Regions from separate parts of the Homo sapiens genome. Here all the other regions are linked to region 1. Evidence: fine-mapped expression QTL. A gene starts in region 1. Each other region holds a variant in brackets. All regions are shown on one strand. Distances are from middle to middle.

Region 1 (10,966 bases):
TTGTCTACAAACTTGTCAAAATCCATAGAACAATACATCACAAAGTCTGAACTTTTTTCAAGTTTTGCCAAAAAATAAATCTCTATTGAGGATGTCAAGGGGATCTCAGAATGGAATGTGGACTATGACAAATGACACCAACTGTATTACAAATTTATGACATAACCTCACTGAGCTAGAGACAAAAAGAACTGTATAGGAACACTGTACTCTGGTTGGTAAATGTTTCTTACAGGGGTACAGGTTGTCTATTCTGTAACTGCATCTATACTAGGCTTAAACAAATAAGTAAATATAGATAATCATGGCCAGCTATCTCACTGTTAGAAAAAGAAATTACAAATATGCAAAGGAGAAATGCAGGAATGAACCCTGTGGTGCTGGATTGGAGTTGGAGATATCAATATGAACTCATGTCTACACAGGTAGTTATGGAAGTAAATATAGACATGTATGTCTATATAAATGTAAATGTATATATAAAGATACAGTGCATATGTTTATACATGGGTTAGTATACCCATGTACATTTTTAGCTCTGTACAGGCCTAGAAAGAATGATCCTTCAGTAGCAACAAGCATACATAGCACTCATGTCTTGGTCTCTACAATTCTTCAATAAAAGGGAACAAGGCTCTTTGGAGAAATGGTTGATTCCAGGGGCGGAGCAAAGAAAAAAAAAGTGATCCCAGAACATCTTAAGTGCCAGAAAGTAAGGAAGTGATAAGCAAACAAATGATCAAGCATGTAAAAGAGATACATGAAGCAACCTGAAAGAGGTCCCAATGGCAAAAGCTGAAATAATTTGAGCAGCAAAATAACAACAGATTATAAATCAAGGAATAAAATAAATATCCATGAGTGCACCCTGATGTAAATTATTGAATAAATAGCTGGAGAAGAAGGGGCAACTCTTTCATTTTTTTTTCTAAGTTTTTAATCCTCTCAGGGTACAGAAGGACAACTCTTAGAGAAGACTTCCAAATAATAAATGCAGAAAGAATGAAGGAAATAGGAAAATCACCATTCGAAAACCACTATAATAATTGCTACAACAGAAATCCACGATGAATACCTAAATTAGTGGGCAAAACTATAAGAAGAGATAGAATATTTGTGTAGCTTCAAAGTATCTTCCCTTAAATATATATTGATTATTATGGTGGTTTAAACATGTACCCAAAAGTTCATTGATACTCCTTCCTTCATAAGATAAAGCTTAATTTCCCTCTCCTGAGTGTGAGCTGGATTTAGTGACTTGCTACTAATGGATGGAGTATGGAAAAAGAAAATTAGCAACTCTATTGCGGAGAAACGTAGCATATAACACCTCAATCAAATGATCATGGTTAACATCACCAGTGATAAATCATGTCACATTTTCCTTAATCTGATGCAGTGAAGACATTTCATTCTGGTGTTCTTTCCCCGAGTCTAACCATGAGTAAACAAACACCAGGCAAATTCAAGTTGAGGGGTAGTCTACAAAATGCCTGATCAATATTCTTTTTTTTTTTTTGAGATGTAGTCTCACTCTTTCTCCTAGGCTGGAGTGCAGTGGCGCAATCTCGGCTCACTGCAACCTCCACCTCCCAGGTTCAAGCGATTCTCCTGCCTCAGCCTCCTGAGTAGCTGGGACTACAGGCGTGTGCTACTACGCCTCGCTAATTTTTGTATTTTTAGTAGATATGGGGTTTTGCCGTATTGGCCAGGCTGCTCTCAAACTCCTGACCTCATGATCCACCTGCCTCGGCCTCCCAAAGTGCTCACACCTGTAATCCCAGCACTTTGGGAGGCTGAGGCAAGTGGATCACTTGAAAGGCCAGGAGTTTGAGACCAACGTGGCCAACATGGTAAAAAACCCTGTCTCTACTAAAAATTAAAAAAATTACCTGGGTGTGGTGGTACACGCCTGTAATTCTAGCTACTCTCAAGGCTGAGGCAGAAGAATCGCTTGAACCCGGGAGGTGGAGGTTGCAGTGAGCCGAGATTCTGCCACCTCACTCCAGACTGAGCGACAGAGTGAGACTCCATCTCAAAAAAAAAAAAAAATGCTACTGATGTTATTTTGATTATCAGTGGAATTTGATTTGAGGACTACTGAACTGCAGAAATCAAGAGTGGAGGAAAAAAAAATTGATCTCATTTTTCCCTAAACTATGCATGTGAGATTAGCCATCATTAATTATAACTTTTTTTTTTTTTTGAGACAGTTTCGCTCTTGTTGCTCAGGCTGGAGTGCAATGGCGTGATCTCGGCTCACTGCAACCTCCGCCACCCGAGTTCAAGCGATTCTTCTGCCTCAGCCTCCCGAGTAGCTGGGATTACAGGCGCCTGCCACTATGCCCGGCTAATGTTTTTGTATTTTTAGTAGAGACGGGGTTTCACCATGTTGGCCAGGCTGGTCTCAAACTCCTGACCTCAGGAGATCCACCTGCCTCAGCCTCCCAAAGTGTTGGGATTACAGGCATGAGCACCGCGCCTGGCCAATTATGACTTTTAAAAGGAAAATATGTCCATTAATTTGAGAGCATGGACCAACGCAGTAGTGACATCAACTACTTCACTCACTTTCAGTCTCTTACCCTTGGCAGCCTCCTCCAATTGTTCATGGTGTTTTGGAACAGAGTGGTTGGTACCTAATGTGACAGTGGTCACTTAATTTTCAGTAGGTAGATGGCCTTGGGGCCCAAATTTCAGTGACTTGTTCAAAGGGAGGAAGCAAAGGAACTGAATGAGGAACTGACTTGGGCTCAGGAGTATGCATGTAGGCCTCCGTGAAAACATCTGAATGAACACAGAGTCCACTGTGGTCAAGAAATATAAAAATACTTAATGTGCTTGTGCCTCAAGCTTCTGCCATCAGGGACAGGTTTATTTGCTTTTATTTGTCTACTCTTAAGATCTATGCTTTGTTTTGCTTAGAGAATCAAGTTTAGCATTAATAAACACTAGTGTGTAAACTACATTTTCAGATGGGGCAGAAATGACCAGTTCCTTTGGTTTCATATCATCATATAAACATTTTTTTATTTTTTGAGACAGGGCCTCACTCTGTCACCCAGGCTGGAGTGCAGTGGCTGCTCTTATTTGTGGTTATGACTGTAAAATATAGGTAAATATAGGTAAGATCACTCAAATGCCTCAGGGTTATGAGTGCTTGGGGGAGAATGGGGTCAATGAGGTCCAAAACCATGACCTAGAAGTCATCTTGTCCTAAGTATTTTACCACTTGTAAGACAGCCAAGCTGTACATGAGGCGGGGGATCCTACTGGGAGATAAAGCATAATCAGAGCAGAAGTCTAGTATATGAGGCTCTTCTTCGATAGCAGAAGGAAGCTACCCTTTTATGTCCTCAAAAGGTCCCAGAGTGCTGTATTTCCTCGAGGAAGAAGGAGTATCAGATCATTACTACAATGGTTGAACTAGTTTACAGTCCCACCAACAGTGTAAACGTGTTCCTACTTCTCCACATCCTCTCCACCACCTGTTGTTTCCTGACTTTTTAATGATCGCCATTCTAACTGGTGTGAGATGGTATCTCATTGTGGTTTTGATTTGCATTTCTCTGATGGCCAGTGCTGATGAGCATTTTTTCATGTGTTTGTTGGCTGCATAAATGAACACTTGGACACAGGAAGGGGAACATCACACACCTGGGCATGTTGTGGGGTAGGGGGAGGGGGGAGGGATAGCATTAGGAGATATACTTAATGTAAATGACGAGTTAATGGGTGCAGCATACCAACATGGCACATGTATACATATGTAACAAACCTGCACGTTGTGCACATGTACCCTAGAACTTAAAGTATATTAAAAAAAAAAAAAAGAAGATCATTACTACAGAAGAGATCTTCCACCCTGTGGCAGAACTTCCTTTTATCCCATTCACGGATCTGGTTGCCCACGAAGCAGGCCTGCCATGAAAACATCTGAATGAGCATGCAGAGTCCATTATGGTCAAGAAATGGAAAAATACTTAGTTGTCATGTACATTAATTATTTTTCTTAAACCTTGGGGTAATAGTCCGGGGGCAGGCCTGCTTTTGGGGCCTGTGTTAACCCCACTGTGCTCCAAGCACAGAGAAACACGGTGCAGCCCACAATTCCTTCTGGTTTCTTGAACAAGTGTCTTCTCAGGACTCCTCTCAGTTCCTGAATTTCACAAAACTGCTACCGACGTTTTACCAGTTAGAAAAATGTCCAAAATAGGATAACCCAGAATTGGGGATGGTGGAGGGTGAGGAAAGTATGCTTTGCCAAGAGACCGACATCATGTACAGTGAGAGTAAAAGGAACGGGCTGTTTTACTGGCGAGTAGAAGTTGTTGACTAATGTCAAAGCAAGGAAAAGATTCAAGGATCCGCTATATCCGTGCTTATACTTGGCAAATCGCATTTCTCTGGTTCAGGGCACAATAAATTCCATCACTCCACAGGAAAGACTGCCCTACTAGAGTCAACTGCGGTTGTGGGCACTTTCGCTGACAAGCGAAAAGCCTTGAGGTAGGTGGATGCTCCCAGGAAACTCAGACGTCCGAAGTTCACGAGGAGTTGGGTCGTGAGAGGGGCCAGACCTCGATCCGCGGGGCGACAGCTGCAGTGTCGCGTCGCGAGCAGGAGCTTGGCGGCGTAGAGCGCCAGGGTGCCAACTTCGCTTCCAGGCCTGTGGGTTCCGCCCGGCGCGTGCTGCTGTCAGTCAACGCCCTCGGCCCGCCCCCGCCGAAGCTCCACCAATCGTAGCCGGGGGTCGGAGGTGAGGAGACGTCGCCGGGTGAGGAAGCGGGGGGCTAGCGGCCTGGCGCTGCGGCGACCGACCGGGGCGTCAGGATCCCTGGCCCCCGGAGAGCGAAGGGCGGGCGGGTCCCGGAGGTGAGTGCTGGATGTGGTCTGTGTGCGGACGTCGGGAGGGGCCGCTGCGGGCGGAGCGACCCATTGCCCGGCTCTGCCAGCGCGCTCCTAGACTGCGAAGCCCCTCCCTCCGCGCGCATCTGCTCCCGAGTCCCCAGCCCCGTGCTGATAGGTGCAGCCCCTGGAGTCGTGGCTGTGGGCATAGGTGCCAGGGAGGGGAGGCCCGGGTCGAAGGCATAGGCAGAATTGGAGCCCTGGGTTGCCAAAGCGTCGCAGCTAAGAAGCCGGAGCCCAGGCTAGTACCGGCGGGGCGGGGCGGGGCGGGGCCGGGAGCGAGCATCTCCATCCTCAGTTTCCTCCACTTGCGGCAACGCCACAGCTCGGTACAGTTCGGACCTCCACGCCGCAGCGAAAGACTTCTGTCCTCCAGGCACCTTCACTAACCCGGTGCGGAGCACTTGGCGACGCCTCCCTGCCCATCTCATATCTCTCGGCTCATCGCTGCTCTGGGCACCAGCTGCCTCTTGGCTGGCGCTGCTGTCACACGGTGGACTGTTCTGGCCTTACTGAGCTGCCGTTTGGGGACATCAGATTCAGGTCGTATGGGGAGAAACGAGTGTAACTTTACAAGGTGTGATATGGAGACCCTGGCCTGTTGCCCATTTCTGCCTGATCAAAGGCCACTAGGGTGGTAATAAGAGGGGTTCCGAGGCAGGATTTATGCAGCATTTGTGCAAAATTGTAAATTTTCTTTGCTTTTCATTATTTACATTAAAGGGGGATTGTTGCCACATTTCCTAAAGATAAAGAATCACACTGCTTTGGTGGGCCTCCCCGCTCCTCACTGTGGTTAATTATCATTTGGAACATCAGGATATATTTGAAACTGGCAGGACTCCCAGACCCTGATAATTGTTTGGAGGCAGCAGTATACTATTTCTCCGTAGTGTTTGGGTTCTGCTTTTCTTTGAATTTGTTTAGTATTTTTTTTTCCATGTCTGTTATCCTCACAATCTCTTTGGGGCCAATAGAGTGCTGTTATTTGTTACTGAGAAAGGAAACGAAGGGATAAATCACTGAAGTGGGGTTAGCCTTCCCCATTGCCTGGGAATTGGGTTGTCCTGACCTGACAATTTAAGTTACAATTCAAACATCATTTTGGAAAGGCCATCCTTTTACCAACTGAAACGAATAACAGTCCCTGGCCACTCTATACTAGTGGTTCTCCCACTTGGCTGTATGTTGTAATCATCTAGGGACCTTTTTAAAAAAAGCTACTTCTTGGGCCTATTCCTACAGATTCTGATTTAATTGTTTGAGTGGGGCCCAGTTGTTTGTATTTTAAAAAGCTTCCACGATGATTATTAATGTTCATGCAGGGTTGAGGACCACAACCTATCAATGTGTTCAATATTTAAAAAATAGCACTTAGTACAGTGTGACTTATATAACTGATTTTATTACTTCTCCACTTGCTATGTAACCTCCATGAATACATGGGGCCCTGCTTTGGAAGAAGGGCAAGGGAAGGTCCAGATGAGTCAGCACTTTGTGCATGTGAGGCTGCGGGACACGAAGGAGAAATGGAATCTGTGGAAACAAGTCCTGCAGACTACTGCCCCTGCTTCATCTTTTTTCAAGGATTGACCCTATTTGGTTAACCCATCATTGTTAGGGTCCTGGATGGGTCTCCAGTTCTTCATTCTGTAGATCCTGCCCTGTTTCAAGGTCTTACTCAGCATCCTATGAAATACAGCTACTCTTTGCAAAGTTTGAAATATATGCATTTAAGTGTAGATATTTTCCATGTAAATCTGTGCTTTTGTCTCTTACTATTGTTCTGAACTATATATTCTGAACTAAAGTTCCAGACACTTGCTGTGACTAGTACAGTTACATTTATTTGGCCAACAGGTCAGAGTAGTTAGGATAGGGACTGCCTCAGAAACTGGACAGTTTCTATGCAGTTGTCCTATAATATATTATCTTTGTGGAATGGTTGCCTGAGAACATTAGCTCCCCAGAGGATAGGGTTGCTGTCTGATTTTCTTTGTTTAATATTGAACTCAGGAATTTCATTTGTGTTACTGACAATTGTAATTCCAAATGATGTAAGTGACTGCTTTGTAATTCTCTTGTGAGATGGGGGTAGGAACCCTAATGGCAGTCTGGGGTTGTTGTCACAGGCCATAAAGAAGTTAGATTGGCCACTATGAGTCTTGGATATGGAAGTAGGCTTAATAAAAATTTGGCAGAACACTTCCAACAAATACTGGGTTCCACATGTAAGGCAGAGCATGCATTTAACTTTTTGCTTGTTCTTTGCACATATTATAAAAATAAAGCATGAGTAAGTGGTGGTCTGACATTTGAAAACAGGATCACTCAAGTTTAGATTCCTTGAATAATAACTTTTAGATCTGTACAGATACCCCTTTTTTCTGTAGGGGAAAACAAGATCATTGGATCATTGAACTAAATAATTATAATAGTTTTTAAGAAAAATAACATTTGGAGCTTTTATCTTTGGTTTATATTTTTTCACTTATATCGCTGTTTATAAAGTTTTGACCTTCAGCCAAGGTCTGAGAGTGATTTACCATGTTGAAGTTCATGTATTTAAATAGACTATTTAAATTACTGTTTTTTATTAGTAAGGAAAAGGAAACGTTCCTATGCCCACTCCTCCCACTATATCATGTATAACTCTCTTGCCTGTAAAATTGTACTCTTAATTTCTAATGTTTTTCTTTACTTCATTTTCAGTATCTTTAACCTTTATATCATATGCATATTTTTGTTTCAGCAAGAAGAATTGTATAGAAATGTAAAAAACATTTATGTGTGCTTCACATGTGGCATGAAAAAAATGAGGACCTCTGGTCAAAATTGCCTGAGTTCAGAATTTCATGCTGGAAGGAAAGTTAGACGTAACTTCTAATTTCTAGTTCCAGTAAGCATCTCTTCTTGGAAAATTTCCAAAAAAGGTAAATTACATTGAATTATATATTTTTATTTTTTTGGTTAATCTGAGGAACTTTTTTCTATAATCATTCCCTGCCAACACTGTTGTTCTTACTTGATTTTAAGGCTCCTTGCAAATAGCATTCCTGTTATAATGCGTAGGTTTTATGTTTATAGGAAAATACCAAAAACCTGTTACAGTTTTTTTTTTACACTACAATTACCTCATGCCGTGAAATAGTTTTCTTCTTTTACTTAAAAATCTTTCAGTTTAAGTTGAATTGATTTCACAGATGTGATTTAATGCTTTGTTTCTGCTATGTCTCATCTTTAATTTTTACTTTTAGAAATTGGTTTTATTCTTTATTTTATTTCATTTTTTTTTGAGACAGAGTCCTGCTCTGTTGCCCAGGCTGGAGTACATTGGTGTGATGATCATGGTTCACTGCAGCCTCGACCTCCCAGGCTCAAGCAATTCTCCTACCTCAGCCTCCTGAGTAACTGGGACTATAGGTGCGTACTACCATGCCCAGCTAATTAAAAAAAAATTTTTTGTGTGTGTGGAGTTGGGGGTCTCACTATCTTGCCTCAGCTAGTCTCAAACTCCTGGTCTCAAGCAAACCTCCTGTTTTGGCCTCCCAAAGTGTTGGGATTATTGGCGTGAGCCACCATGCCTGGCCCAGCTTTATTCTTTGTATTTGTGATTTTTATTTCCTGGTGAAAAATTAGGACATACAGATAAAGGAGAAAACAAAAACTGCCAAGAGGTGACAACTATTAAAATTTTAATATATATCTTTTCTTTTTTTTTTGAGACGGAGTCTCGCTCTGTCACCCAGGCTGGAGTGCAGTGGCGTGATCTCCGCTCACTGCAAGCTCCGCCTCCCAGGTTCACGCTGTTCTCCTGCCTCAGCCTCCCGAGTAGCTGGGACTACAGGCACCCGCCACCACGCCCAGCTAATTTGTTGTATTTTTAGTAGAGACAAGGTTTCACCATGTTAGCCAGGATGGTCCCGATCTCCTGACCTTGTGATCCGCCTGCCTCGGCCTCCCAAAGTGCTGGGATTACAGGCGTGAGCCACTGCACCTGGCCTGGTATATATCTTTTCAAAGAGAGGTCTGTCTAGTGTGCCTCACGCAACATCTATTTAGGTGTACAAATGGGTCTCTCAAATGTCAGTGCTCTACTTACAGCACAGAGTCAGGTCTTTTCCTGGCACAATCCTCCTAAATTATTGTCAGTAGAAGCCTCTAGCTGGGAGGGACTTCTTGCATTGCTGCCTCTGGTCCTGTAGTTCTTTTGCTTTAGAGTCTCCTGCCCTTGCCTTCTTTCTGCATCACTGACAGCTGTGTGCTGCTGCTGCCTGGCTGAACCACACTGATGTCCTTTAAATGGCTAGTGTCCACACAATGCATGACCACACCTGCCTATGGTGCAACTAAATTCCTGTGGACTACCATCTTTGGTCTTTTCCCTCTCTGGCCATTGTGGAAACCTGATTTTTTTTTTATGGACAACTTTTTGAGAAGGATTTCAATGGCAGAACAGTTGGGACCCTGATGACAGAGTTATCCTCTATTTTACAGCCAGTTTCTTCCAAGAAGTTATAGACAGTTTGAGGTGGATGAGTGTCTGGATATTGGAGAGAGGAGGTGTCAGGAAATGGAGAAGCACAGTCTTTCACATTTCCTGGCATCCCTGTGGAGGTGGCCAGGACTGGTGGATTTATTTCTCCTTAAGAAGGGGCTGACATCTTGTCTAATATGAGTGTAAGCTTTTCAAGGGGAATTTCTGGCACTTAGTACAGTGTGTGGTATAGCGTAGGCCTCCATAATTATTTGTTGCATAGATTGTTGAATCATTGTGTACCATGTAAAGAACTAAGTACCTTGAGCAAATCAGAAAAGTATAATGCAGTATCATTAAGTTGCTTTTCTCTGATATATGGTTTTTTAAAAAAATACAGTCATAATTGGTATAGTCTAGTTTGAGAGATAAGAAATACAAATAGAGGGAGCATGAGGGAGAAAAAAATACAAATAGAGATCAGCAGAGAAGTGAAAATAATAAGTGCTATGGGAACTCTGAGGATGGAGAGCTTGTTGGAATGGCTCACCCTTGTCTCCTTTGTGAAGCTGATTGGCATTGTCATTGTGGTTGGGACTGGTTCAGACAGGTGAGGCAGAGGAGTGAGAGAATGGGGGCTTGCCAGGTCCAACACAAAGTGGAGGGGAGAGTTGATGCAGCTGAGTTATTCTGAGATACTCTGCACCATGATTTTGTACCCTTTCTGCCTTTATTTCTGTGTCCTGCCCTTCATGGAAAGTCTCCCTGGGGATAGAATACTAGGACATTTTCTGTTTACCTGTATCAAAATGGCAAGTGGAAAGAGCATTTGAATTTGTTACGTGGGAGAACAGTTAGGCACTGCTGACTCTGAAGTCCTCTGCCTCTAGCAGGTGTGATGAAGGATTTTGGGATCCTGTTACCCATTTTTCAAGCTTGACTTTCCTCTCCCACATCTTCCAGGCAGGTGTGTGTCTTCCTGTGCCTTATCATGTAGCTGAGGGAGCATCAGGACCACATATGTGGTGGGGAGAGCTGGAAACCTAAAGAGTGTGTCGCGTCTCCTGCCATACCTCTGTATGAGAGGGGTAGCACTTCTTGTTTGCCAGAGAATGTCAGGATGCTTTGCACAGTATCCCAGAGCTCTTCATGAAAACAGTTTCCTCTTCATGTTCTTTAAGTGTAATTAATGTAGCAGTGTTACATAACTTAAAGGGAAGGGGAAGGGAAGTGATTTTATTGACTGAGGTCTCTGTAGAAATTTAGCAGTTACTTTTATTTCACAATTTCTGAGTTTGAAGACATACTTCCTTACTTTCTTAAAAGTTAAAACCTAAATAGGCAATAGGGGAAATATTGTATTTACACGGAAGCCTGACACTGGGAAAGGAAACTTTGAGGAGATTGTCTGGAAATGAAAAGACGTTACTGTGCTCTGGCTCTTTGCTTTCTCCTTGTGACTTTGGGCCTTAGATAAGGTTAAGGAAGAGGAAATGTGATGTTTTTCCTCTCACCCCACCCTAGGCCATTGCAATTGGTGATGTTCTCTCATCTCTCCTCTTTGAAGGATTTCTTTGAAGA
Region 2 (10,966 bases), 50 kb after region 1:
CTTGACTTCCTGGGCTCAAGGGATCCTTCTGCCTCAGCCTCCTGAGTAGCTGGGACTACAGGTATGTACCACCATGCCCAGCTAATTTTTGTATCTTTTTGTAGAGACTACATTTTGCCATGTTGTCCAGGCTGGTCTTAAACTCCTGAGCTCAAGCATCTGCCCACCTCAGCTTCCCAAAGTGCTGGGATTACAGGTGTGAGCCACTGTGCCCAGCTGAGAGTTTTTCTTGTCGTGAAAGAACTTGACATTTCCTCAAGGATTTATAAAGGAGGCTGAGGAGTAATTTTCCCAGGAGAATTTTAAAAAGAAAGCGGGCATTGCTCCTCCAGTGGTTTGGAATGATGCCACTTGATTGTGCAAATGATTTCTTATGATCTTGTCTGGTTTTCTGTTATTTTTTGATTTGGTGACATAGCTCTCAAAGATTTGGTGACACAGCTTCTTGAGTCACTTTCATCTCTCTTAAAAAAATTTTTTTTTTAACAACTTTTAAGTTCAGGGGTACATGTGCCAGTTTGTTTCATAGGTAAACTTACGTCATGGGGGTTTGTTGTATAGATGATTTCATCACCCAGGTGTTAAGCCTAGTACCCATTAGTAATTTTTCCTGATCCTCTCCCTCCTCCTACCCTCCACCCTCCAATAGACCCCAGTGTGTGTTGTTGCCCTTTATGTGTCCATGTGTTCTCATCATTTAGCTCTCACTTATCAGTGAGAACAACTTTCATCCCACATCTAATTTGTCTTTCTTCACTCTGGTGTGGAAATTTTGATAGAGATTCCAATATCACTTAAACGTTTCCCAGAATATTTAGATAGAATAATTTAGTTTCTTCTGAAAAGTTTATTTTAGGCTAGTGCCACATGGTTGTGAATATTAGCATGGTAGCCAAATAATAGTTTGTTTAAATGTATATTTCCCAATATAAATATAAGGGGCATCATAATTTTTAAAAACTATAAAATCTAGAAGAAAAATCTATGGATAAAATCCATAATTCTATCATCTGAATGCAATGAACATTAGCATTTAGGTATATTTTCTTGCAGGTTTTTTAACCATATACTTATAGAGAATATGTAATTTGGGTCTGTGTTTTTTACATATAAATATTTTTCTATGTTAAATAGTCTTCATAAGTTAATTATAAAGATCTGCTTAATAGTTCTGCTACTGCAGTTTTCATTATTAGATAAGTTGGTCATTATAGTTGGACATTTAGGTTTACAATATTAAAGCAGTGGTTTATATCAATTTCAGTGGTTTAAAATATGAATTTCTATTTTGGAATGAAAGTATTAATTTAATGTAGTGAATCTCATATTCCAGAACTGAGATGATTGATTTGATGCTATTTGTGACAGACAGAACCCATAATAAAGCCTTTCTATGCAAGTTACATTTTATAGAATTATCCTACTAAAAGTAACCTTTCTTCAGCGAATGCAAAACAGACCTTTGGTGTTCCAGTATGATTCATTTTGCCATTCTGAACAACTATCATTTTAATTAAGACCATTTAACTGACACTTCCTGGATTCAGTTATTAAGTTTCAGATTGAAACTTGATCCAGTTTAATAACTGAATCCAGTTTCACATTTATCAATCTGAAAACTTAGTTTGCAGATTGGTAAATCAGGGTACTTGACAAGAATAAATATGGTACGCCTTTATATATTCATGTGTTACATGCCAGAAATGAGTCTGTTTCTGGACCCTGTTCAAGGAAATAGTGATGACTGAGAGAGGTACAGGGAAATAAACACCCAAGGGAAACAACAGAAATAAGCCTCCCCAACTTTCTAAAAAACTGCTCAGCATTATCTCTGTGGATTCTGGGTAAATTCAGCTTTTTAACATCAGCTAGTCACTAATGCCAGAAATTCCACTTCAAGTGTATTTATTTTCTTGTGTTAAGCATTATTCTACCTGGTTTATGTCTACAATGTAGTATTAGTGTACTTAGGATTCTTGACACCTCAGTGTGCAATAAATAAAATTTTGAAGTTGTTGTTTTTCATTTGAAGGTGAGACCACAGCCCCTGAGTGCTAAGGGGACCTGGGAATCCTAGGGGAATGGAGGTGGTGGACGATAAGAGGATGGTTGAGGGCAGGAGTTTAAAGGACACAGAAGCTAGGAGAGCAGAAAATGTACTCCACCACCTTCTGTCTAACTTGTCTCTTAAAAGTGCTTTTACATTTTAACTTTTT[A/T]AAAAAATGTGGGCCGGGCATAGTGGCTCATGCCTGTAATCCCAGCACTTTGGGAGGCCGAGGTGGGCGGATCACCTGAGGTCAAGAGTTCAAGACCAGCCTGACCAATATGATGAAACCCCATCTCTACTAAAAATACAAAAATAGCCAGGTGTGGTGGCACATGCCTGTCATCCCAGCTACTCAGGAGGCTGAGGTGGGAGAATCGCTTGAACCCGGGAGGTGGAGGTTGCAGTGAGCCGAGATCATGCCATTGCACTCTAGCCTGGGCAACGAGAGTGAAACTCTGTCTCAATAAATAAATAAATAAATAAAAAATAAAAAAGTGTGAACTTAAATATATTTATATGTGTGTACATATATTTTCTTTTTTAATATTCTGGTTAAATGAGAGGCCATCGGGCCTCTTTTTAAGAGTCTAATGATGTGTATATCTAATGCCCATTCCAGCTGGATTGTAACACTGCTTGGGGAAGATAACTTAAAAAAAAGTAGTACCGAGATTACAGCAGCTAGTGTCCTAAATGGAAAAGAAGTGAAACTAAATGTCATAGGAGAAATCCTTTCAGTTTTGTGCAGTGGTTCATTTGCTGTTAAATCTACCCCATTACCATTCCCCTTACTCCTTGAAAATAAAGTGATCTTCATGTTACAGGACCATTGCTTTATTTATGTCACAGATTTCTTGTCCTTTAATTAGTCAGTGAAGGCACATGATTGCGATACTACTTTTTGATTGCCGTATTGTAAAAGCTATATGGTAAAAGGTAACTCCCTCCACCCGCCCACTGCACCCTCACGTTTAGGGGCCACACAGAAAAAGCGAAATAAGATGAGGTGAATCTAATGAGAAGGCAACTCTAATGCCCATCAGGAGATTCACTAGGACATTTTAAAAGGACGTCTTTAAGGAAAAAGTTTTGTTTGTAGATGTTGCCTCTGATTCCTCCCTGCGGCTCCAGTCCAGGTCTTGGAGCCGGCCCTCGAGGGGAATGTCCGGGACTCGGGTCGGTACCTTTTTGGTCTGGGAATTTCCAGTGTGCAGAAAAAAAATCCACAAATCTAGGCCTCGCTGCCCCCTCCCTGCCTCCTCTGGCCCTCCTCAGTGCCCACGCAACCCGGTTCGAAAGAGAGGATGACCGTATTCTGCATTTTAGAAAACAGGCTCTTAGCTTCCCCCGCCCCCGTCCTCACTAGAGTGGAGAACTGAAAGCGAACGCTATAAAGGGCGCCAGTGAGAGGGGCTGGCCTCCTCTTGCCACGAGGTCAGACGGCGAGTTCTTAGAGAAAAAGGCTGCTTAGCTGCTGCTTATCATGTAACCTCAAAAGGAAACTGATCGTCTTTCTCATGCTGTCACGTACTTGGGTTATTATCGCTGATTACAGCTGGAAACAATTGATTTGCTCTTACGTATTTGTGTGACTTGACTCTTCAAACACAAAGGTATATTTTTATTATCTGATATTTTATTAAAATATCTTAAATGGTAAGATTTTTTTTTTCTTTTTCTTTCCTATTCCCATAGTCAGATTCTTAACTTTGGAGTCACTCTCCTATGTTTGAGTAGCCATACTTGCTTTGGGGCAAAATATTGGGGGATAGTTTTTTGGAGAAAGAAAATCTGGGATGTTTTTGTAGTTTAGTAATAGCAAGAATCATGTCTGTTTGCTTTAAAGGCCCAGGAAGGACTGAGATACTAATGGAGGAGATCGATAGAATGGGTGATGAAGTATCATAAATCTAATGTAACACTATCTTCTGTCAGTGACCTAGAACTATGATATCCCGAGGCAGAAGTCTCCCAGGAGATTTGATGTGTGGGTTTAGAGGAGTACTTTCCCACCAACCGTAGGCATGAAACTATATGGGAAAATATATCAGAGTAAATTGAAATACTTTATAGCATGCCCTCATTCATTCTTACAGCTGTAAAATTAAAATGTATGAATGGCCATTTTATGAATGAGGAAAACCTGAAATTTGATGATTTGGCTGGACCCCCAGATTCATGATAATCTGTATATGTTAAGGGGTTTTGTTTGAATAAAAGCACATTTCTAAATAGAATGGATTAGAGATTCTCTTCATTGGGATTAGTGAATTCGCTGCAGTGGCTGAAGGTGCTGTCCCAAAGAGGATGACAGTTACGTAAATTTTAAGCATTTGGTAATATATATTTCCTCTATTTAAATCTGACATCTAAAGAAATATCTGGCTGGGTGGAATATTTTTTTGCTTCTGTTAGACAGTAGGTTGTTTAGACAATAAAAGGAGAGAAAAGTTTATCCTAGTCTCATTCACCACCCCGCATAATCCCTGATGGAGCAGGGCATCAGCCACACAGATCATCTAAACAGGCAGATAACCCTGCCTGTTTATTTATTTGGCCTCAGAATACGGTGTATGGTCCACCACCCCTCTCCACCGTCTTTCTAACATCATCCTGCTGAGGCCAAAGACACAGTTGGGCAGGGTACAGGCGTGGAGCACTGCGGTGGCAGAGTCAGTCTGAGAGGAGTTAGCACATGACATCAGTGCACAGTGCAGATGACGGAAACATTTGGCAGCATCCTCTCCAGTGTGGAGGTGATGACCGAGGTCAGCATAATCCAGCTGTTCAGATACAGACTTTTCCTCACTGAGGAAGAGGAGGCAAACCCTTCTCTTTCTTGTCCTGTAACAGACAAGACAAGAAAGCTCTCAGAGAGCAAAACAAACCCTTTCAGAAGCTACAGAGCCATGGAAAGCATTACTGAGGGGAAAGATTTTCTAATTGTTCTGAGACCAATAATGAATTGCTCCTGAAAACACCATTTTCTTTTGGCTCATAGCTGACACTGATCTGGAGGCCTCTTGATTTTTTTCTCCCAGGTTAACAGGAAGATCTCGAGGGCCCTGGCTGAACTTCACCTTTTGGCTTTCTTGGCCTGATGCTGAACTCTCGAGGGTGAGAAGGGCTGATATTTCTAAACAAGTAGCATCCAGGTGTTACCTAGCTTCTGGCTGATGTCAAAAAGGGCAGTGGGATTTTTCTAAGATTTTTCTCTTAAATTAGACATTTTTTTGAAGTTGCTACAAAATTACTATGAATTTTATTTATAGGCATTTTACTGTGATTTCATGAGAACTAAGATTTTTTGTGTGTGTGTGTGTGTGTGTGGTTTAGTAGTATTTTTTTAAACCAATTTGTTGAATTTCTGCTATTTTCCATAGCAAGAGGACATATGAATACATCTAAGAGGGGAATTCAGCTCTCTGCTTACTGACAGTTTCAGGGTTATGTAATCTTTAACAGGCTTGGAGAGCATCATGCCCCCTCTCAGTTTTGGTGAAGAGGCTCCTTAAAACTAGCATATGTGGTTTCTGATTAAAGCACTTTCTGTTCCTTTAATTTGGGATTGTCTGTGAAGTAAAATACCTTCCTTTCAACCGTAGGGAATGAAAATATTTACTGCCGCTGATGGAGTTAGTGGATTGGGAATTAACACTTATTAAACACTTGTTTTGGGAGCTTACCAGCAAGATCTCATTTAGCCCTACAGCATTTTTTAGGTAGCTGTAATTAGCTTTATTTTATTTATTTATTTTTGTAACTTCAACTTTTATTTTAGATTCAGGGGGTGCATGTATAGGTTTGTTACCTGGGTGTATTGCGTGATGTTGAGGTTTGGGGTACAACTGATCCCATCACCCAGGTACTGATCATAGTTATTTTTCAGCCCTTGCTTTCCTCCCTCTCTCCCCCATCTAGCAGTCCTCAGTGTCTTTGTTGCCATCTTTATGTCCTTGAGTATCCAATGTTTAGCTCCCACTTAAAAATGAGAACATGTGGTATTTGGTTTTCTGTTCCTGTGTTAATTCACTTGGGATAATGGCCTCCAGCTGCATCCATGTTGCTGCAAAGGACATGATTCTATTCTTTTTTATGGCTGTGTAGATTTCCACAGTGTATACGTACCACATTTCCTTTATCTAGTCCACTGTTGATGGGCATCTAGGTTGATTCCATGTCTTTGCTATTGTAAGTAAGTGCTGCAGTGAACATACAGGTGCATGTGTCTTTTTGATAGAATGGGAAATATAACCACGACAAATGGTGAATTCTGTCATGGTTATATTAAACAATAATCACAATGCTACATTCTCTATACATGATACCAAATATCTGAATTAAACTTATCAAAATACTGTTAATTACCTAGATGTTATATCTATAAAATGCCAACCTCCAGATATTTGGAGACATTAAAAATGATTTTTTCACTGTTTGTTCAGATATTTAGCAACATGCAGGCACTTTTAATATTGGTAGAAGACTTTTGGATATGTTTTAGCATTGAGTAGTTTATGTGCATCCCCATTCCTCTGATTGTTTCAGTCAAGTTTGCTAGACAGCCTAGTACTGTGAATCTGTAGAGGGTCTAATACTGTAAATCATGCGTTCTTAGAGAGGGTGATATTATCTCCAAGAGGGCAAAAATAGGTTCTTCAGGGAAAAATCTTAGCTATTACAATAGTTTGTGGCCCCCAAAGGGCCATAGTACATAATAGATATACAGTATATCTGTGATATTAAACTTTCATCAGGGGATGATTAGGAAAAAGATGTCTAAAAAGACCCTGTAGTGGGGTCTAATACTGAAAGAAAGGTTGAGACATGTCATTGTAAATGCTCTGGATGTACTTATTCAACTGAGGTCAAAAGATTTTTCTGTGGTTTGTTGTCTTTTTGTGTCTTGCTTTGTGTCTACATCCTCATTTTTCATGGATTTTAAAAGTACTGGTTTCCAGAGGGGGAACAACGTTTTTAGTTTCTTTTCTTTTCTCTTTTCTCCTCCTCCTCCTTTTTCTCCTTCTCCTTCTTCTCCTCCTTCTCCTCTTTTTCTTTTTCCTCTCTCTCTCCTTTCTTTTTTTTTGATACAGAATCTCCCTCTGTCGCCCATGGTTGGAGTGCAGTAGCCCCTTCTTGGCTCACTGCAAACTCCGCCTTCCGAGTTTAAGTGATTCTCATGCCTCAACCTCCTGAGTAGCTGGGACTACAGGCACATGCCACCACGCCCAACTAATTTTTGTATTTTTAGTAGAGTGGAGTTTCACCATGTTTGCCAGGCTAGTCTTGAACTCCTGACCTCAAGTGATCCATCTGCCTCAGCCTCCCAAAGTTTTGCTTTTTTTTTGAGACAGAGTTTTGCTCTCCCACCCAAGCTGGAGTGCAGTGGCATGGTGGCATGATCATAGCTCACTGTGTCCTCTACCTTCTGGGCTCAAGTGATCCTCCTGCCTTAGCCTCATCAGTAGCTGGGACTACTACAGGTGCATGCCAGCATGCCAAGCTTCTTTGTTCTTTTTTGTTTCTTTCTTTCTTTTTTATTTTTTATTGTAGAGATGGGGCTTGCTATGTTACCCAGACTGGTCTCAAACTCCTGGCCTCAAGGGATCTTCCCACCTTGGACCCCAAAGTGCTGGGATACAGGTGTGAGCCACCATGCCTGGCTTCATATTTATTTCAGGAAAGCTTTATTGATTATATCCTTAAATACTTTAAATATATATTTTTAAATTGTGATAAAAGATACATAAAAGTTGCCATCTTATCCATTTTTAAGTGTACAGTTCAGTGCCACTAAGTACTTTTCATATTACAACTTTTGCCACCACCCATTTCTAGAACTTTTTCATCTTCCCTTTGACTGAAACTGCATATCCATTAAACAATAATTCTACATTTCTCCCTCCCCCAAGTCCCTGGCAACCACCCCTCTACTTTTTGTCTCTATGAATTTGATGACTCTACATACCTTATGTAAGTGGAATCATATAATACCTATCTTCTTATGACTGGTTTATTTCATGTAGCGTAATATTTTCAAGGTTCATTCATGTTGTATAAATGTCAGAATTTCCTTCCTTTTTAAGGCCGAATAATATTCCAGCGTGTGTGTAGGTGTGCATACCACACTTTGTTTATCCATTCATCTGTCCATGGACACTTGGATTGTTTCTTTTGGCTATCATGAATAATGCTGCTGTGAACATGGGTGTACAAGTATCTGTTTAAATCCTTGCTTTCTTTACTTTTGGGGATATATCAAGTCATTCTATGTTTAATTGTTTTAGGAACTGCCATACTATTCTACACAGTGGATGCACCATGATGAATTTGTTTTTAATTCATTTTGTGCAGTATTTGGCACAGTGCAGTGAATAAGTGCGTACACCATGAATATGTGATAGAAAATGACACGAAGTTCTGAGTAAATCTGCGCAGTGATTCGGCACCACTATTAAAACACTGTCTCCTATTTATTCACCCTTGCATGTCCACATACTACAGTGCACACACTTATGAAGATGTGCATGGTTGAGAATAACTCCTATGAGAATCATTGAGGTAATGCACTTAGATTCCATGTGGGTCAGATCTTTTTGGAAATTTGGACCGCTGGCAATGCAGTTCCACATCTTAAACCTAGGGAGGCTTGCTGGAGGTTTAAAAGGGCCAGAGCTACAAAGGTGATCCATAGATGTGGGGATTAGGTCTTGTGAATGAAGATGAACTGAGGACACTTTGAAGATAGGAATTGTGTGAGTTCTGATTTTTACCCTTCTCCTCCCCTTCCACACCCATTCCCTCACCTCTGTAGCATAGCACAGGGTGACTTCATAAATTTTGGTTGAACAAATAACCCAGGGTGGAAAAAAAATGAAATGATGATTTATTTTTTAATCATAACAGCTGTGAAAAGTTGTTCTGAAGGCCATAAGAACTTTCTATGTTGTATCTTTGCTATGGGAAAAGGAGGTGCGTTTAATTTGAGGTGGAAGATAAGAGTTTGGAAACTGAAAGTGATCACTGGGCAAGGCTGCCAAATTTACCCTTGGCATTTCTAGTGTCTTGAGAGATGAGCTGTCTGAAAGATGGCAGAGGCTGATATATCATGGACCTTCCCAACCCTGCTCTTCTGTGGTAAGGTTTCGTATCTTGTAAACAGCCAATGAAAACAGTTCTGTGTGTTTACCTCTAGTATTGAACAGTATCCAGCATTTAGATAAGAAAGGGATTGTTAAACCCAACAGTAATGTCAAAATCTAGGGCAGAGTGACAGATTGCAGCCAAATTGAAGCAGGCAGGAGGTGGACTGGGTGGTGATAATAATGTTAAAGGACATGCTTTCTCCACCCCATACCTCACTTAGGTTTGTTGGCTCTCCAAACTTCATGGTTGTTCATTTTTGGGAGCCTCTCTTAAAATGCAAATAACCTTTAAGAAGGGTTACTGTTGATGCCTTGGTGGGAATTAATTTTTAGATTCTTTCTTGAAATTTTACTGGATAAGTAGGGCACAGAGACTGCCCCAATCAGAGTGCAGATAAGGGGTGAGGTAGAGTGGCAGGAGCAGTGCAGGGAACAGAATGTGAAGGTTAAAATCAGACTTGGTACCTCCCCAACTCTCCTTCAGCTGGCTTTCTTGTTTCTGTTCTTTGTGCCACCACTATTATCCTCAAGGCCTTGGAGTTACCTCTGACCCTCATCTCTCTTTTCCCTGCCCTGCCCTGCCCTTCCCTTACCTCCTTCTCTCTCTCTCTCCTTCTCTTTCCTTCCTTCCTTCCTTTCCCTTTTCCTTTCCCTTTCGCTTTCCTTTCCTGTCTCACTCTGTTACCCAGGCTGGAGTGCAGTGGCTCTATCTTGGCTCACTACAATCTCTGCCTCCGGGGTTCAAGCAATTCTCCTGCCTCAGCCTCCAGAGTAGCTGGGACTACAGGCACCCGCCACCACGCCCGGCTAATTTTTGTATTTTTAGAAGAGATGGGGTTTCACTGTGTTGGCCAGGCTGGCCTCGAACTCCTGACCTCAGGTGATCCACCCGCCTCAGCCTCCCAAAGTGCTGGGATCACAGGCGTGAGCCACCACACCCGGCCCCTCCCCTGTCTTTCTGTGTTCAGTCTCTTGCCTATAGATTAAATGTGTGAAATCTCTAAACAGTTCCCCTCTTTCCATGCCCAGGAGCACCACTTCAGTTCAGACCTCCATGACCTGTCACATTGACTGTTGCAGAGTCTTTCCTGATCACTTCCACACAGCTGCCACTGTGATCGTGTTTTTATCTTGTTCGAAACCCCTGAATGGCTCCCCATCACATCTGCTGTCCATTGTTTGCAGGCAGCATCAGGGCCCTGAAGGGTTCCAGACTTGACTCTGTGGTCCTCCTCTTCTCCTATGTTCTCTTCAAGTTGGGCCGATGGTCCAAAGAGGCCAAAATGCTTAACAATGAAGTATTAATTAGAACTTTGAAAAATGAGTAATAATTATAACTACCATCATTGAGTGTATATTATGTGCCAGGAGTTGTGCTAGGCATCTCATGACACTACCACGTTTAACCTACCTACTAGCTGAATGCAGTTAATATACCCATTTTATGGATGAGAAAAGAGTCTTAGAGAAATTAATTAAAGCTGGATGGTTATTAAGTGAATGGAGCTTGGATTTGAACCCAGGTTTGTTTAACTTCAGAACCCCATGCTTTTAATCAAGGGAAGAAGAATATTACAGGCAAGAATTCTAGCTTGGGTAAAAATTTGGAGGCAAGAATTAGTGTGCTATTTTAGAAGATATTCATAAGGACTGCATGCTGAAGAATAGAGATAGAAGTATGATGGGATAATGTTTTAGTTTGCTAGGGCTGCCGTAACACAATACCACAGGCTGCGTGGCTTAAACAACGGAAATCTGTTTCTCACTGTTCTGG
Region 3 (10,966 bases), 49 kb before region 1:
AAGATACCTACCTCTTTGGGGCGCCGGACGCGAGCTGCTTTTGTTTTGGTTACAGCTCCGAGGCTTGGCAGCAGTCAGTCCTCTAAATCGGGGACAGGGCCCAGGGGTCGAGGCCCGTCTTCATGGCTTAGACCAGGAGTGCATTTTCTGGGAGCTGTAAATTCTTGGGGGAAGAGTTGGTGGATGGTTCTCAGACCTCTCTGTCGACCCCTTGGAATTGTGTACAAAGGCTGTGCACTTTTCTGAGACAGCACACCCCTTTCATCAATTTTTCAGAGGGGCTCACGACTCCTCACATGCTAAGAGCCATTAGACAACGGGAAAACGTTGAAATCCTCCAGGAGAGCAATCTGGCATAATTATTTCCTGCAGTAGTCCTAATCTGGGTGTAAATTTGAAATTGGCCGTTTCTCTGGCCCCGCCCTCTTTGGAGATCGGCTTTTCTTAAACCACACCTCTCAAGCCCACCAGGGCTACTTAACTGTTAATAGCAGTTAACATTTACAGAGCACTTTGTATGACCCAGGCGATGTTCTCAGTCCTTTTTTTTTTTGTTTTTTTTTTTACATTATCTCATTTTCTCTGTAGAACTACATTTATAAGGCAGGTATTATCCCCACTTTACAGAGTAGAAAAGGGAGCCCAAAAGAAATCAATAATTTGCCTAATATACCACAATGGTTAATTGGTGGAGCCAGGGTTTGAACGTCTATGTTATACTAAAGTGCCTTATTGAGTGCCCGGTGGCAGGAACGGGGCTAAGTACTATTCATATGGTTTCTCTTTTAATTCTCATATCAAGCTAGGGAAATGGGTGTATTATCCTATTTTATGGGAGAATTAGTTGAACTATACTTTGATTTTCAAAATCACAGTTTGGGCACTTTAGGATATATTGGTAGTTAGGCTGTAAGCTGGTGGATTGCAGTCAAAAGTTTAGTAACATTTAAACAATAGTATCATTACTTAGGCACAACAAATGGAAGTAATCGTCCATATTTAAATGTGAAAATTTTCAAAGTATATCTTAGCAACTTGAGGAGAATATCACACGTCTAGTTTTAATTTGATATTTCTGAAGAAAAATGAGTAATTCAATCTGGTCATTTAGAACTCAAGATTGCTTTAATTTTACAATGTTGATATTTATTATGCTCTACTGTTCTTTAACTTGAAATGGTATAGAGATTTTATAATTCCAGCCCTATGCTTAGCTGTTGTACATGTTTTATTTTATTTGTGTTTTCTAACATTTCCGTTTCTTTTCAAGGATCAGTGGTCAATTGGTCAGGACAGGGACTACAGAAATTAGGTCCAAATTTACCCTGTGAAGCTGATATTCACACTTTGATTCTGGATAAAAATCAGATTATTAAATTGGAAAATCTGGAGAAATGCAAACGATTAATACAGGTAGGTATTGCAATCTGGGAAATGGTTACATAGGATCAATTTATTATTAAACAAAACAATAAAATAACCTGACAAAAAGTAACTGTGCAGCCCTAGCAAGCAGTCATTGTTGCCTTAAATTTTTACATGACAGTTTCTTCTGAAGATGAACATACATGTACTACATTGAGAGTAGATTAGAAAAAAAAAGCATTGTTAAGAAAAGGAAGCATTTTATTTTGCAAAATACTGTGTTACTAAGGTAACCTTTTACCTCATGATGGGGGTAAAGAGTTCATTCATTCCTTCATTCAAGAAATGGTTACTGCGTCCCTCTTATATGTCTGGCACTGTATTAAGTTTTGACTGAGAGTTTAACAGCACTATTCTTGTGGAACTTACATTCTCAAGTTGTTGCTGTGTTAAAAATGTCTTAGTAGTTAGAGGAGGTCTGATCGCTCAGCTTTATCTGTATTTTCTATTGCCCAGGAACAATAACAAAAAACTGATAGTCATACTGTAGAATATTTAGACAATATATGTGAAATGTACAAAAGGAGTTTGTTTGAGAGTGTTTGGCTGTCTAAATAAACCTTTTAAATCACTTTAATGTGAAATATTTTATATATGTTATTCCTAAAAATAACAATATGTTTCCTTTTTACAGTTATCAGTAGCTAATAATCGGCTGGTTCGGATGATGGGTGTGGCCAAGCTGACGTTGCTTCGTGTATTAAATTTGCCTCATAATAGCATTGGCTGTGTGGAAGGGCTAAAGGAACTAGTACATCTGGAATGGCTGAATTTGGCAGGAAATAATCTTAAGGTGAATGGTTTCTTTTTTGTTTACAAAACTATTCTGCGTAAAAAAAATTCAAGCAATGTAGAAATAAGTCAAATTAAAAAGTGAAAGTACCCACTCCCACTCTCCAGGGATAATCTCTGTTAAAATAAACTAAAAATAAATCTCATTTTGAAACATATAATATGACATAATATTCTTTTAAATTTGAACAAAGAATCTATATTGTACTTAGAAAAAAGTAGATCAAACCATAGAGTGTTTAGGAGGGAGACTATATCATGCTGAATTAAGCTTTAAGTAAATGTTTAATGCTATAAGGGAGAATATACAGTTTTAAAAGTTAGGAGATCTGAATTCTAGTCCTACTTGCACTACTTAGTAACTGTGTAATTTTGGGTAAATTAATACATATTTCTGCGTCTTATTTTTTGGCATGCTAGCTGAGAGGACTAGATTACCAATAGCTGCCTTTTATTGAGCCATTAATGTATCTGAGCTACTGTTCTAAACATTTATCTGTATTAACTTATTCAATCTCATGGTAGCCTGCGAAGTAGATATAGACATTATGCGTGTTATAAAGGTGAAGGAACTAAAGCACAGAAAAGTAACTTGCTCAAGGTCACACAGCTAGGAAGTTGCAGGGCCAGAATGTAAATCCAGGCTGTTTGGTTTTAATCTAAACTTGTAAACTCTATTCTATACCACCAACTGTCATATATTATTACTATGGTTTCTTTTGTTTTTTTTTTTTTTTTGATGGAGTTTTGCTCTTATTGTCCAGGCTGGAGTGCAGTGGCACGATCTTGGCTCACTGCAACCTCTGCCTCCTGGGTTTAAGCAATTCTCCTGCCTCAGCCTCAAGAGTAACTGGGATTACAGGCGCCTGCCCACCATGCCTGGCTAATTTTTAGTATTTTTTTAGTAGAGACAGGGTTTCGCCATGTTGGCCAGGCTGGTCTCGAACTCCTGACCTCAGGCTGTCCACCCACCTCGGCCTCCCAAAGTGCTGGGATTACAGGTGTGAGCCATAGCGCCTGGCCATTACTATGTTTTTTTTCAAGCTGTAAAGATCTTGGATGGTATGAACTACTTGGTAGCCCTCTACTCATAGAGAGATAATGAAAGTGTACGTTTACAACCTGACAATCTACTAAATTCTGTTAGTACTGCCCCTTTTCTCTTGCTAAGTTCTTCTACTCTGCTTCTAATAATAAGAGGAGGGAAGACACTCTTTCAGCTGCAAAGAACTAGGGAATAATTTTATTTTTTGATTTTGTTTTCATTAAATAGTGTGATGCTTTTCTTGTGATAGGCCATGGAACAGATCAATAGCTGCACAGCTCTACAGCATCTCGATTTATCAGACAATAATATATCCCAGATAGGTGATCTATCTAAATTGGTATCCCTGAAAGTAAGTATGTTTTCTTTGTCATTTGTGAAGTTTTATAGCAAAATACCAAGAGAAAGTAATCTTACTGACCTAAAATTAGCCTGCTTTGTATGAGCAGATTGCTTTCTTTATGATAAGAATTATGGGCTGGGCATGGTGGGTCATGCCTGTAATCCCAGCACTTTGAGAGGCTGAGGCGAGTGGATGGCTTGAGCTCAGAAGTTCAAGACTAGCCTGGGCAACATGGCAAAGCCCCATCTCTACTAAAAATACCAAAAATTAGTGGGGCATAGTGGTGCGAGCCTGTAGTCCCAGCTACTCAGCTAAAGCAGGATTGGTTGAACCCAGGAGGTGGAGGTTGTGGTGACCCGAGATTGGGTCACTGCACTCTAGCCTGGGCAATAGAGTGAGACTCAGTCTCAAAAAAAAAAAAAGGAATTATGTTAGAATACCAGAAATTAAGTTTGAAACTTTTTGTTGTTAGTTATATAACTCATTTATTTGATGTGAAACTGGTCATTGTAGTTAAGGTTAATTTTATTTACCATTCTCTGAACATGATGGAATTCCCTGTATGCCCAATCAACCAATATTAGTAACTTCAGTTATTATATAGTACATAATCTTTGGTGAGGTTGAGATTAATCATTCCTGAATTTGAGTCTGTCTTTATTTTTTTTTGAGACAGAGTCTTGCTCTGTCACCCAGGCTAGAGTGTAGTAGTACAATCTCACTCGACCTCCCAGGCTCAAGTGATCCTCTCACCTTAGCCTCCCAAGTAGCTAGGACCATAGGCATGTGTACATCACCACACCCAGCTAATTTTTTGAGTGTTTGTAGAGATGAGATCTTTTTCTTTTCTTTTTTTTTTTTAGATAGAGTTCTGCTCTGTCACCCAAGCAGTGGTGCAATCTTGGCTCACTGCAACCCAAGCAGTGGTTGCAGTGGTGCAATCTTGGCTCACTGCAACCTCTGCCTCCTGTGTTCAAGTGATACTTCTGCCTCAGCGTCCCGCGTAGCTGGGATTATAGGCGCCCACCACCACACCTGGCTAATTTTTTGTATTTTTAGTAGAGACAGGATTTCACCACGTTGGCCAGGCTGATTTTGAACTCCTGACCTCACATGATCCTCCTGCCTTGGCCTCGCAAAGTGTTGGGATTACAAGCGTGAGCCACTGCACCTGGCCAGAGATGAGATCTTACTATGTTGTCTAGACTGGTCTCAAACTCCTGGACTCTAGCAGTCCTCCTGCCTCAGTCTCTCAAAGTGCTAGGATTACAGGCATGAGCCACCGAACTGGCCGAGTCTGTTTTTTTGTTTTGTTTTGTTTTGTTTTGTTTTGTTTTGTTTTGTTTTGTTTTGTTGAGACGGAGTTTTGCTCTGTTGCCCAGGCTGGAGTGCAGTGGCGCAATCTCGGCTCACTGCAACCTCTGCCTCCCAGGTTCAAGCGATTCTCCTGCCTCAGCCTCCTGAGTAGCTGGGACTACAGGTGCATGCCACCACGCCCAGCTAATTTTTGTATTTTTAGTAGAGATGGCATTTCATCATGTTGGCCAGGCTGGTCTCGAACTCCTGACCTTGTGATCCACCCGCCTCGGCCTCCCAAAGTGTTGGGATTACAGGCATGAGCCACTGCGCTGGGTCCCAAGTCTGGATTTTTTTTTTTTTTTTTGACATTCAGAATTGCTGTTTTTAAAGTAATAGGTATTAGCTAATTGTCAAAATTAATTTCACTTAGAAAAAAACATGTAGCATGTAGCACTTTTTATGGAGGGGAATGTATCATGCAGTCAAATAAGTAACAGTTGAAATCACAGTCTTGAAAAACATGTAGAACATTTTAAATATTGTTGCCTCATTGGATATTATTACCATCAGATATGTTCATTAAGCCCTAGAAGCAGTATCTTAGTTCACTTTTTCCCAGATCTTTAGCAGAAATCATTTTTAGCAATAATTATTCTAAACATTTTGATGTAGCCAGATGTTGTCCTAATAGATGCTAAGAGAATTCAAATGAACCAAAGATGATTGAATTTTTTTTTTTTTTTTTGCTGGAATAGAAGCCTATTTATCTGATCAGAATCCTGGGTGTTCAGTTTTGGGTTTATTCTTGGTTGTTGCTGACTTAATGTGAGTCAGCTTTATCTGCAAGTAACACATTCTACCTCCCTTTATTTTTTAGTTACCTAGAGAATACAGTTGCAATTATGGATGTAGGTTATCACTCTCTTTTTTGGAAAATTTGCTTTATATGTGGTTGTTTTAATGA[CT/C]TTTTTTTTTTTTTTTTTTTAATTTGAGACATCAGAGTCTTGCTGTCACCCAGGCTCGAGTGCAGTGGTGCAGTCATGGCTTACTATAGCCTCGACCTCCTGGGCTCAAGTGATCCCCCTACCTCAGCCTCCCCAGTAGCTGGAAATACAGGTGCACCTCATCATGCCTGGCTAATTTTTTGATTTTTAGTAGAGACCAGGTCTCACTATGTTGCCCAGGCCGGTCTCAAACTCCTGGGCTCAAGCAATCTTCCCTCCTTGGCCTCCCAAAATGCTGGGATTACAGGCATGAGCCACCACACATGGCCTCTATTTTGATATTTTAAAAGAAAATGAAAAAGTGTGTTAGAAATTGCTCAGTGTCTCATAAGTTAAATCTCACAGCATGCCTAGTTGCTATGCCAAGCATGTGTTTTTGGACAAGTCTTTAAAATATCATGAGCTTAGGATGTTGGTATGAAAACAGAGAGTTGGACCAGAAGATCATCAAGGACCCTTGTAGCATTAACAGTCTTTGATTTGTGTGTGATGAGAAATATAATAAAGTAGATTCCTTTATTCTTATATGTACCATTTTGGTGTTGTCACAATAGGCCAATTTATTTGTAATCTTTTCATTTGTAATTCATACTGTTTTTACTTTCAAGACCCTGCTTTTACATGGAAACATCATCACCTCTCTTAGAATGGCACCTGCTTACCTACCCAGAAGTCTTGCTATACTTTCTTTGGCAGAAAATGAAATCCGAGACTTAAATGAGGTAAAATTTGAGGGTATTTTGTGAGATTCAGGAAGCTGGAAATCCTAGGAAAGACACAGGAGAGGGTTGTGAGCTTACTTTTAGACTGTGAGCATCTTGGAAGAAACTGCCATTCATATGAAATGCTTGGCTCTAGATCTTTCCACTTTTCCTTAGTGTCAGTGGGTCATTAAGGTCTAATTTCCTTTGTAAAGCTGTAATTATCATTCCACTGGGAGGCGATTGGTGGTAGAGGGACATCTACGTTATAAGGGTTTATAAGACTCCCTGTCCACCTTTCCTGGCTGCTGTGATGTTTTCAAAATAGGGTTATTTCTGCTAGGAAACAGTGCTGATATTTGCCAGGGGATTTTGTGCAGCAGGGACAGATGGCTATATTGTTGAAACTTTGGAAGTCAATGGACACTTGTCACTTTTCAGAACAAGAGGGAAATTATCACATTCTCAAATGCTGCCAAAGATATGTAATCAGTGGAAATTTTGTGCTTGACACTGAATAGTCCTTTTGTTCAACAAAGATATCTTTTGTTCCAGATCTCTTTTTTGGCATCCTTAACTGAATTGGAACAGTTGTCGATTATGAACAATCCTTGTGTGATGGCAACACCATCCATCCCAGGATTTGACTATCGGCCGTACATCGTCAGCTGGTGCCTAAACCTCAGAGTCCTAGATGGATATGTGATTTCTCAGAAGGAAAGGTAAACATGTGCTCTTTAACATCACAAATGTTACTGAAAAGACCATTTCTAGTTTACTACAGATTAATAGAGTATTTCTTAAAATGTGCATTTAGATAACAAGAGTATTAGTGCAGTCATGTAGCAGACTATATGCTGGTCATTTAGGATTTTCTGTCATTTCTAAAAAAGGATAAGAAATAAATATTGGCCTGGTGCAGTGGCTCATGCCTGTAATCCTTGCACTTTGGAAAGCCGAGGCAGGAGGATTGCTTGAGCCCAGGAGTTTGAGACCAGCCTGGGCAATATAGGGAGACCACATCTCAAAAAAAAAAAAAAATTAGCTGGGTGTGGTGGTACACACCTGTAGTCCTAGCTACTTAGGAAGCTGAGGTGGGAGGATTGCTTGAGCCCAGGAATTTAAGGTTACAGTGAGCTATGGTTGTGTCATTGCACTCTACCTTGGGTGACAGAGTGAGACCCTGTCTCTGAAAAAAAAAGAAGAAATCTCGGCCCCAGAGATTGGAGCTAGTAGTCTTAGTGCCCTACATACAACAATTTGATTTCTAAAAGTTCTTTTGTTAATCAGTTGTTTGGAGCTTGGAACACTTTTGCTTAGAAACCATCATGTTATAGATCCTGTGTAGGATCTCAGATCAGTCTCACAAAAGCTTGTAATATATTAATCTATCACATATATAAGGGCCGTATTTTTTATTCATTTTATTTTCTATTTTATCATCCAGCTCCAAATGCCATGTAAGGGCAGTATTAGTAGTATCTTAGAATTCTCCAAATACTCATTATAATGATAACTCTGGGAAAATGCAGAGTTTTAATTTGGAACTAGTAGCAGATGTGGTGATTGGTCCTCCTCTTCTTTTTTTTTTATTTTTTTATTTTTTATTTTTTTTTGAGACGGAGTCTCGCTCTGTCGCCCAGACTGGAGTGCAGTGGCGGGATCTCGGCTCACTGCAAGCTCCGCCTCCCGGGTTCACGCCATTCTCCTGCCTCAGCCTCCCGAGTAGCTGGGACTACAGGCGCCCGCCACTACGCCCGGCTAATTTTTTGTATTTTTAGTAGAGACGGGGTTTCACCGTTTTAGCCGGTATGGTCTCGATCTCCTGACCTCGTGATCCACCCGCCTCGGCCTCCCAAAGTGCTGGGATTACAGGCGTGAGCCACCGCGCCCAGCCTTTTTATTTTTTTTGAGACTGAGTTTCACTCTTGTTGCCCAGGCTGGAGTGCAATGGCGCGATCTCTGCTCATCACAACCTCCACCTCCTGGGTTCAAGCGATTCTTCTGCCTCAGCCTCCCAAGTAGCTGGAATTATAGGCATGTGCCACCACACCCAGCTAATTTTGTATTTTTAGTGGAGGCAGGGTTTTTCCATGTTGTTTAGGCTGGTCTCAAACTCCTGACCTCAGGTGATGCGCCCGCCTCGGCCTCCCAAAGTGTTGGGATTACAGGCATGAGCCACTGCACCTGGCCAGGTTCTCCCCTTCTTATACCTGTGAAGCAGCAGAAGCAAGAATTCCCCCACCTGTAAATCATTAATAGTTTCTGTGGCTTGGAGCTGGGATCCCTGCAGAATGGAGTCTTCTGGACCCTGATACCTGATCAGTGGAATGAGAGCTTTAGGGGAGGTAAGGAACTAGGATATGGGAAGGAGGGAGTGGAATTGGGATAGTGAGAGTTGAGATGACTTTATTCTGTCTACTATGCTTCATTTAACTTTTTTCTCTCAGTACATACACACATGCATTATGGACTCAACACATACATTATCCCTCGCCTTTTTTTGTTCTTCTCTACTACAGACAGTAGTTACTTCAGGAGTTTCCTGATGGGAGGACGGGTGGTAGATTACAGACAGCGTCTCCCTTCTCTGTCTCTCTGCTGTTTTGTATAGTTTCTGAGTAAAGCACAGGGCCGTGAGGAATGGCAGCCAAGAGCTAGATAGTGGTGGTGCTGGTGTAGGGTGAGGGACATATGTCAGGTCTAGTTTGCCTACAGGAAAGGGTGGCTTTTCTTTTTCCTGCTGTGAATGTTGCTCTGAGAATAAACCTTATTTTGTTTCAAACTGTGACTAGTTCTAGATTTGGAATATGGGTTTACTTGGATAATCCTCTGTACAGTTGTTGACTTCTTCTGTGGGAGTAGGACTGGCAACATTTTCATGTCTGAGAGGCAGCATGGTGATGTGGGCAGAGATAAAGGTTTGGTGTAAAGAGAGACCCACAAAGAGAGATGAGACCTGCTTACGATAGACAGGGGAAGGCTTCACTTTTTTCTCTGCTATCTATTAGCTGTGTGGCCTTGTCAAGTTCCTTAGGGCTTTTCTGAGGCTAAGTTTCCTCATCTGTAAAATGTGAATAGCGGTACTACCTTGCTTTCATGGATGGTAGGATTAAGGATGATGTATAGAACATAGGACTGGTCATATAGTAGGTGCTTAATAAATGATATTATATAAGGATAGAGACTAAAGGTTGAAGAGTTTGTTGAAACTAAAGAGAGTGTCAAGACAGAAAATATTTGTTGATTGGATAAATAATGATAAAAAAGTCTGTGTTTCTATACTGTGGAAATGGTTTTATTCCAAGTGACTTTAAGGTGAATTTGAATATTTTTTGAGCTTTCTCCATAATGCTTTGCAAACATTTAATTTCAGAGACTTCAGGAGATAGGGAAGAGTGGGCTCCCACTTGGGGTAGCCTCTCTCTCTGGGGTTGTCCTGCACTAAAGAAGTGTGTGGGGGGGTGGCTGGCAAGATGGCTGAATAGCAACAGCTCTGGTCTGCAGCTCCCAGTGAGATTAGCACAGAAGGCGGGTGATTTCTACATTTCCACCTGAGGTACGTGGCTCATCTCACTGGGACTAGTTAGACAGTGGGTGCAGCCCACAGAGGGTGAGCAGAAGCAGGGTGTGGCGTTGCCTCACCCGGGAAGTGCAAGGGGTCAGGGAACTCCCTCCCCTAGCCTGGGGAAGCCGTGAGGGACTGTGCTGGGAGGAACAGTGTACTCTGGCCCAGAAACTACGCTTTTCCCATGGTCTTCACAACCCCACACACCAGGAGATTCCCTCCAGTGCCTACGCCACCAGGGCCCTGGGTTTCAAGCACAAAAGTGGGTGGCCGTTGGGCAGACACCAAGCTAGCTGTAGGAGTTTTTTTCATATCCCAGTGGCGCCTGGAACACCAGTGAGACAGAACCGTTCACTCCTCTGGAAAGGGGGCTGAAGCCAGCAAGCCAAGTGGTCTAGCGCAGAGGATCCCAGCCCCACAGAGCCCAGCAAGCTAAGATACACAGGGTTGAAATTCTTGCTGCCAGTACAGCAGTCTGAAGTCGACCTGGGATGCTCGAGCTTGTCGGGGGAGGGGCATCTGCCTTTACCGAGGTGCGAATAGGTGGTTTTCCCCTCACAGTGTAAACAAAATCTCCCGCAAGTTCAAACTGGGCAGAGCCCACTGCAGCTCAGCAAAGCTGCTGTAGCCGGACTGCTTCTCTAGATTCCTCCTCTCTGGGCAGGACATCTCTGAAAGAAAGGCAGCAGCCCCAGTCAGGGGGCTTATAGATAAAACTCCGCATCTCCCAGGGACAGAGCACCTGGGGGAAGGGGCAGCTGTAGGTGCAGCTTCAGCAGGCTTAAATGT

Evidence for each region.
Region 2: its variant is fine-mapped to the expression of NXPE3 in whole blood (INTERVAL, PIP above 0.99).
Region 3: its variant is fine-mapped to the expression of NXPE3 in monocytes (Fairfax 2014, PIP 0.95).

The regions. Positions count from the first base shown.
Region 1 is chr3:101,774,450-101,785,415 of GRCh38, forward strand. NXPE3 (neurexophilin and PC-esterase domain family member 3) reads left to right here and starts at 4,762. Exons shown (of 8, transcript NM_145037.4): 1 at 4,762-4,875; 2 at 7,661-7,841; 3 at 8,211-8,331; 4 at 10,953-10,966. RefSeq lists enhancers at 4,576-4,870, 5,435-5,484 and a silencer at 4,675-5,024.
Region 2 is chr3:101,824,525-101,835,490 of GRCh38, forward strand. It overlaps NXPE3 (neurexophilin and PC-esterase domain family member 3), which reads left to right. Exons shown (of 8, transcript NM_145037.4): 8 at 1-3,707. It also overlaps a transcript of NFKBIZ not described here. Among named protein-coding and RNA genes, the nearest start is that of NFKBIZ, 20 kb to the right of the region's middle. RefSeq lists a silencer at 2,294-2,373 and enhancers at 3,141-3,190, 3,341-3,520, 4,963-5,022. The variant A/T (reference allele first, on the strand shown) is at 2,217.
Region 3 is chr3:101,725,324-101,736,289 of GRCh38, forward strand. It overlaps CEP97 (centrosomal protein 97), which reads left to right. Exons shown (of 11, transcript NM_024548.4): 2 at 1,271-1,413; 3 at 2,060-2,218; 4 at 3,513-3,614; 5 at 6,517-6,630; 6 at 7,165-7,331. Among named protein-coding and RNA genes, the nearest start is that of CEP97, 6.2 kb to the left of the region's middle. RefSeq lists an enhancer at 158-769. The variant CT/C (reference allele first, on the strand shown) is at 5,869.